Linked DNA regions of Homo sapiens. The protein of the gene in region 1 purifies or fractionates together with the protein of each later gene. This does not show direct contact. Each region holds a gene or a part of one and is shown on either strand. Other genes may lie near its edges.

Evidence for each region.
Region 2: the proteins of PNPLA6 (region 1) and HEATR3 purify together in Homo sapiens (co-immunoprecipitation; one large-scale study listed by IntAct). This does not show direct contact.

Annotation. Positions count from the first base shown.
Region 1 is NC_000019.10:7,538,651-7,542,463, forward strand, and holds part of PNPLA6 (patatin-like phospholipase domain-containing protein 6), read left to right. Parts: intron 1-1,267; coding exon 1,268-1,408; intron 1,409-1,498; coding exon 1,499-1,658; intron 1,659-1,979; coding exon 1,980-2,060; intron 2,061-2,272; coding exon 2,273-2,401; intron 2,402-2,703; coding exon 2,704-2,784; intron 2,785-2,871; coding exon 2,872-3,034; intron 3,035-3,333; coding exon 3,334-3,417; intron 3,418-3,813. UniProt on the Homo sapiens protein: Phospholipase B that deacylates intracellular phosphatidylcholine (PtdCho), generating glycerophosphocholine (GroPtdCho). This deacylation occurs at both sn-2 and sn-1 positions of PtdCho.
Region 2 is NC_000016.10:50,086,377-50,090,189, forward strand, and holds part of HEATR3 (HEAT repeat-containing protein 3), read left to right. Parts: intron 1-3,813. UniProt on the Homo sapiens protein: Plays a role in ribosome biogenesis and in nuclear import of the 60S ribosomal protein L5/large ribosomal subunit protein uL18 (RPL5). Required for proper erythrocyte maturation.

The DNA.
Region 1 (3,813 bases):
GGATTCTCCACTTATAATGAGGGCTACTTCAGGGACCTCTGTGGCTGTCAGAGGGGCTGTCTCAAGGTTCTCTGAGACTGGGAGGAAGGTCTATCTCAGGAATGTTTATGTAGAACAGAGAGACTGTATCTGCGGTCTTCTCATATATTGGAAGCTATGTCAAAGGCATACTCACGTTAAGGGGACTATCTCAGGAATCTACTCTGTGACTACTGGAAGGACCGTTTCAGGACCCCCATGATAAACACAGGTACCATTTCTGGGCCTACCCTTATCTTGGAAGCTATGTCAGGGGTCTGCCTTCCTAAAGGGTTCAGCTCAGGGGCCTATGCCTAGTGGAGGGGCCATCTCAGAGAACTTTAGGTCTGGGGTCATAGGGTTTTTCCATAAAGGGCCAGATAGTAAATGTTTCAGGCTTTGCTGGCCACATATGGTCCCCATTGCAACTCTTCAACTCTGCTGCATGGGAGCAGCCATAATGATATGCAAATACATGAATGTGGCTTTGTACCAATAAAACTTTATTTACCAAAATAAATGTGGCCAGCCGGGTGCAGTGGCTCACGCCTGTAATCCTAGCACTTTGGGAGGCTGAGGCGGGAGGATCACTTGAGTTCAGGAGTTTGAGACCAGCCTGGCCAACATGGGGAAACCTCATCTCTACTAAAAATACAAAAAATTAGCTGGGCGTGGTGGCACCCACCTGTAGTCCCAGCTACTTGGGAGGCCGAGGCAGGAGAATCGCTTTAGCCTGGGAGGTGGAGGTTGCAGTGGGCCGAGATTTCGCCACTGCACTCCAGCCTGGGTAAAAGAGCGAGACTCCTGAGGCAGGGCACAGTGGCTCACACCTTTAATCCCAGCCTTTGGGAGGCCGAGTCGGGCGGATCACCTGAGGTCAGGAGTTCGAGACCAGCCTGCCCAACATGGAGAAACCCCATCTCTACTAAAAATGCAAAATTAGCTGGGCGTGGTGGCACATGCCTGTAATCCCAGCTACTAGGGAGGCTGAGGCAGGAGAATCGCTTGAACCCTGGAGGTGGAGGTTGCAGTGAGCCGAGATCGCACCATTGCACTCCAGCCTGGGAAACAAGAGCAAAACTTCGTCTCAAAAAAAAAAAAAAAAAAAAAAAGGTGGCCAGCCTGATTTGGCCAGCGGGCCAGAGTTTGCTGTACATGAGCCCTGGGGAAAGGGGTATGCGGGGGTCTTAGGTTTGCCTGAGCCTTCTCCGTGCCCCCCTCACCCCCGGCACCCCTCCCCTCCCACCAGGATCCTGCGCATCCAGAAAGAGACGCCCACGCTGCAGCGGAAGGAGCCCCCGCCCGCAGTGCTAGAAGCTGACCTGACCGAGGGCGACCTGGCTAACTCCCATCTGCCCTCTGAAGTGCTTTATATGCTCAAGAACGTCCGGTCAGTGTTGGGGTGCAGGTGGGGGTGGAGGGCTGCAGACGTGGGGCCGCCCTGACCTCCAGCCTCTGTCGCCCACCGCCTGTCCAACAGGGTGCTGGGCCACTTCGAGAAGCCACTCTTCCTGGAGCTCTGCCGCCACATGGTCTTCCAGCGGCTGGGCCAGGGTGACTACGTCTTCCGGCCGGGCCAGCCAGATGCCAGCATCTACGTGGTGCAGGACGGGCTGCTGGAGCTCTGTCTGCCAGGGCCTGTGAGTGGGCCTCCCCAGGGGCTGCTGCAGGAGGATGGGTGGTGGGGATGGGCAGCAGGCATTGGTCTGTAGAGCTGGTGGTCTTTGGAGATGCGTCATCGGGAGTCAGGGGAACGGGTGACCGAGGACATTTGGGGTAGTCTGCGTAGTTGCTCAGTAGTTACAAGTATTGAACGATGGGAGATGCCTGCTCGTTGGAAGGGTTGGTGGGTTCCCCTGAGAAGGGATGAGAAGTGTCAGTGATCATTGGGATGGATGAGGGGGCGACATGCCAGTCACCAGGGCGAGGCCACTGAGGGTCCACGGTCTCCTGTGTCTCAGGACGGGAAGGAGTGTGTGGTGAAGGAAGTGGTTCCTGGGGACAGCGTCAACAGCCTTCTCAGCATCCTGGATGTCATCACCGTGAGTGACCAGTTTCTGAGGCAGGGGGGCTGGGGTGCAAGGTCCCACCCAAGGGACTAGGTTGAAGGAAATCACAGGGTCCCCAATCTCTGGTTCATCCGTTATGCTGCCGATGGCCCCTCACGGGACTGGCGCCAGGAAGGATTAGGGGAGTAGCGAGGGGGACTCGCAGCCTCTGCCCTTGTCTCTCTTCACGCCCTCCCCTCCCCCAGGGTCACCAGCATCCCCAGCGGACCGTGTCTGCCCGGGCGGCCCGGGACTCCACGGTGCTGCGCCTGCCGGTGGAAGCATTCTCCGCGGTCTTCACCAAGTACCCGGAGAGCTTGGTGCGGGTCGTGCAGGTCAGTGGGCCTTCGCCTCCTGTCACCCCCTGAGGGACCCCACCCTGGCCCCCACCCATTCCAGGCTCCAAGGGACCGAGGCCCAGCAGCCAGCAGGCGCTGGAGCTGTGGTTATCGGCCTGGAGCAGCCAGATGTCTGCAGCCGCGGACTCCTCCCTTAGCTGCCTCGCCCCATTTCCCCAGACTGTGGGTCTCTCCCTGGTTCCCGCCCGACCCCTTATGCTGCGAACTAGCCCGGCCCACCATCTGGCCCTGCCCCTTACCCCGCCCCATCTTATGGCCACGCCCCTCGAGCCCTGCAGATCATCATGGTGCGGCTGCAGCGAGTCACCTTCCTGGCACTGCACAACTACCTGGGTCTGACCAATGAGCTCTTCAGCCACGTGAGTGGGTGGCGGGGAGCGAGCACAGGGGGGATGGGGGCGAGGTCTCCCTCCCAGGACAGGCCACAAGCTGTTCTCTGCCCCCAGGAGATCCAGCCCCTGCGTCTGTTCCCCAGCCCCGGCCTCCCAACTCGCACCAGCCCTGTGCGGGGCTCCAAGAGAATGGTCAGCACCTCAGCTACAGACGAGCCCAGGGAGACCCCAGGGCGGCCACCCGATCCCACCGGGGCCCCGCTGCCTGGACCTACAGGTACCCAGGGACCCGAGGCCAGCCGAGCCCAATCTCCCAGGAAGCCCCGTCTCAGCCGCCAGCCCCTTTTTCAGTTCTGCATAGAGTCAACCTGACCTTGTCCAGCCCCACAGGGACTCCATAGCGGGGTACCCAGGTCTGACTCCTATCTGGTACCGAGGAAGCTGTGGCCTCGTCCCCAAGGGCCCATTGGAATTGCTTTAACTAGTTAATCAGTCGCCAGCATCTCCTTATCTCCCAACCTGCTAATCCTCCTAGTGGCTCTGAGGGGCAGGAGCCTGAACATGTGTCTCCCCCAGGGGACCCTGTGAAGCCCACATCCCTGGAAACCCCCTCGGCCCCTCTGCTGAGCCGCTGCGTCTCCATGCCAGGGGACATCTCAGGTTTGGAGCACTGGGTCTGCGGGGAGGGCCATGGAGCTTCCAGGTTTGAATCCAGGTCCACCGCCTGCCTGTCTTGATTGTTTTAATCTGCGAAATGGGAACACTGCCAGTACTTCCCCAGGCACTGTTTTGTAGATATTCATTGAGATAGTGCTTCTCCCACCTGTTAAGAGGGATTCAGAGGGAGAGTGCAGGCGTTGATTAGTCATGTCTGCTACAGCAGTGGCCCATGGCACATTGGTATCCATTGGTCTCAGACTGCAACTGTGGTTACTCTCATCTTTTTCTTTTCTTTTGAGACCTGTCTCCCAGGCTAGAGTGCAGTGGTGCTGTCATAGCTCACTGCAGCCTCGAACTCCTATGCTCAAGTGATCCTCCAGCCCCAGCCTCCCAAAT
Region 2 (3,813 bases), on another chromosome or scaffold:
TACGCAGACGGAACAGAATTTTGAAGGGGCAGGAATTTGGATTTTGTAAATGTATATTGTTTGTCATCCAATGTGCAGAAACCTTTCCCAGACACAGGAATCATGTATTTATAGTTGCCATGGGGTACAGAGTCAAAACGAGGTATGCAAGCAGCTCCTGGGCTTATAATTTTCTTTTTTGTTAAAATTGTTTGCATCCAGTTATATCAGGCCAGTCAAGGCTGTATCATAAATATCATAAAGGCCTCATTAAGGTATTTGGATAATTCTCAGCCAAGCACGGTGGCTCATGCCTGTAGTCCCAGCACTTTGGGAGGCCGAGGCGGGAGGATCACCTCAGGTCAGGAGTTGGAGACCAGCCTGGCCAACATGATGAAACCGCTCTACTAAAATACAAAACTTTAACTGGGCGTGGTGGTGGAGATGCCTGTAATCCCAGCTACTCGGGAGGCTGAGGCAGGAGAATCGCTTGAACCCAGGAGGTGGGGATTGCAGTGATCTGAGGTTGTGCCATTGCACTCCAGCCTGGGCAACAAGAGCAAAACTCCATCTCAAAATAATAATAATAATAATTGAGTACTATTCTATTATTTTCTTCCCAGTTACAAGCATTTAAGTTTGATTAATATATGTATGTAGTACAGAATTCAAAAGTTATTAGAGGACAGAAACTGGAAAGCCTCCCTCCTTTCTCCGACACCCAGTTCCTCTCCCAGAGTCAAGTTACTGTTGCACCAGTTACTTGTGTATCCTTCCAGAGAGATTCTCCATGTATAAGAGAGCGTGTGTATGCGGGCATGCGTGCGTGTGTGTAAGGCAAATGGTAGAATACCATCCACACAATTCTACACCTTGCCATCATCTAACATGTATCTTTCTTCAAACACCTTTGCATGGTAGGAGCTGATTCTCTTAAGTTACAGGTCTCTGATACGGATTAATTTCATATGCACACAAAGATCTATAGCGATACAAGAGTTAAATTAAATATTCTTTTAAATGACCTAGCTGTAGGTTTCACTTGGAGGGAAAAACAAAAAAAACAAAAACTAGCTGTACAAAGTCCAATGCATGTTCTTCTAACAGATTTTCATAGTTCCTCATAGTAAAATCTTACTTAATTTGACCACATTAAACTATAGGAGCTCAAACCAAACAAAAACAAGAGAGACTGAGAGAGAAGAACAAGTGGTGTTTTCTATACTGAAGGAAAACTCTCCACATTACTCCACCCAGTATCCATTGCTGGAGCGAGGGTAGCCTGGGAGGTGGGAATCTGCCCCTCTCTCTCAGCTGCTGAGGTTCCAGGTGTCTTTCAGGATTTTTTGAGGGTAAACGTGAAGATATTTGCTTTCTACACTGGCAAATAAGATAATTCCATTGTGTTATATTCAGTGTATTCTTCATATATTTTATCCTCCTTTTCAGACACAACATTAAGTCCAAGAATTGAACTCTTAAAAGATCAGGCCAGGCGCGGTGGCTCACACCTGTAATCCCAGCACTTTGGGAGGCCGAGGCGGGTGGATCACCTGAGGTTGGGAGTTCGAGACCAGCCTGGCCAACATAGCGAAACCCTGTCTCTACTAAAAATACAAAAATTAGCCAGGCGTGGTGGCAGGCACCTGTAATCCCAGCTACTCGGGAGGCTGAGGCAGGAGAATCGCTTGAACCCGGGAGGCGGAGGTTGTGGTGAGCCAAGATCGCGCCATTGCACTCCAGCCTGGGCAACAAGAGTGAAACTCCGTTTCAAAAAAAATCAAAAGAGAGTCACTTTTAACTAAATACAAGTTTTTGTGTCAACATCCATTCAAGTGTTGGTCCCCAGTTCTTTAGACATCTGTTTTACATTCCGTCAAGTTCCTAAGAGGTGCTGTGTGTTTAATGGTACATGTTTTTTAAGTTCTAAATTAATCTTTAAAAATTAAGTAATTAAATATTCAGAAACCCATATGTGGTTACTGAGCTGTCTCTGCCACCCTTTCAACATTGATCAGTTAACAGGTGTACCTTTCAAGTACTCCCTGGCTGTGCATTCATTGGCTGGAATGATCCCATGAAAGCTGTGCCCAGCCATGCCCAGGACAGGATATAGTCAGGATATGGGCAGTGCTAGTCCCATTCCCATTCCAGGGCAGGACGGGACAAGCACTGGAGTACAGAGGCAGCTCGTCAGTGTGAGCAGACCAGATGATGGCTGTAGCTTTGTATTTGTCTCCTAGCCTCCTAAACCTGGAAGAGATCTGGATGGTAAACGGGGAGGGGACTTTCCCCAACTTTTGCAAGCATTCTGGCTCCCATCAGCCCAGCAAGATGTCCTGTGGGGTGGGAGTGAGAGGGCTGCTGTTGCTCATGCCCACCCCCACCCATTCCCCTGAGTAGAGGCAGGGGGCAGAGCCAGGCAGGGAGTCCACAGCCAGGGTCCCAGGTGAGCAGGACCCCAAGTCTCTCACTGCTTCCAAGCCCTACCTAAGCTCTAGGTAACCCTGGCAGCCCTGGTTCCACAAGCTGCCATCTCTCAGCTCTGGGCCATTTCTCACTGAGAGTCTGGTCCAGGTACCCCCGGTCCCATCCCCAGGCAGCACACAGAGGTTATTTCACTTGAAACAAACTCCCTGTGTGCCTGTGCTATAGTGAAAGCACTCAGATATGTTTCTCTTGGTTCTGCTGGTTATTTGTGGTCACTGAGGCCAGCACATTTATTAACTGCAAAGATCACAGGAAAACTGCCCCAAGCTGAGTCCTGGAGAAATAATGGAAAGTTTCTGAATTGTGGGAAAATATAACTAAGCACTTTGATTTTAAATAAATTCCCATTTCATGTCTATTCTTGACATCATCTTTTTTTTTTTAAGGTTCAGGAATGTGACATGCTGCTAGGTTAAGAATGCTTTTGTGTATCCTGAGGGTCTTGATGATATTTATGTAGAAATCGCCTACCACACGTTACTGTCACAACAGTAATTTTGAAAATGTATTCACCTAATGACATGTGCTCAGTTACTTCCAGGGATTGGTAGTCTGAATTGGCCTTGCCTATGTAATGGGTTTGGATGGTTACTGCTGGGGGAAGAGGGCCATTACAATACCTCTGGGCTGTCCAGCTTGCTTGGGGCCCATACTCGTATCCCATCTGTGGCCTTCGTATCACCTAATATTGGCATTCGGAGAAATGGAGAATCAAAATGACTTGAAAAGTAGTGTCATTGTTATTTATTTTGGAGTAACAGAATGTTTTCTTATCAGAATGAATTTGATAAAGGATAATCGCTTATATTTGGAGATGATATTCTTTTTTTTTCTTTTATTTGAGATGGAGTCTTACTCTGTTGCCCAGGCTGGAGTACAGTAGCACGATCTTGGCTCACTGCAATTTCTGCCCCCCAAGTTCAAGCAATTCTCCTGTCTCAGCCTCCCAAGTAGCTGGGATTACAGGTGCCTGCCAATGCGCCCAGCTAATTTTTGTATTTTTATAGAGACGGGTTTCACCATGTTGGTCAGGCTGGTCTTGAACTCCTGACCTTGTGATCCACCCGCCTCGACCTCCCAAAGTGCTGGGATTACAGGCATGAGCCACCGTGCCCGTCCTAGAGATGATATTCTAATACAGTCCTTCTAAGCATTTGGGATTTATTAATAATGTAATCCTATGGGTTCTATATGGATAGTGGGAATTGTTACAAGATAGTTTAGTGGGGGCTGGCCACGGTGGCTCACACCTGAAGTCCCAGCACTTTGGGAGCTGAATTGGGAGGATCACATGAGCCCAAGAGTTTAAGACCAGCCTGGGCAACATAGTGATACCCTGTCTCC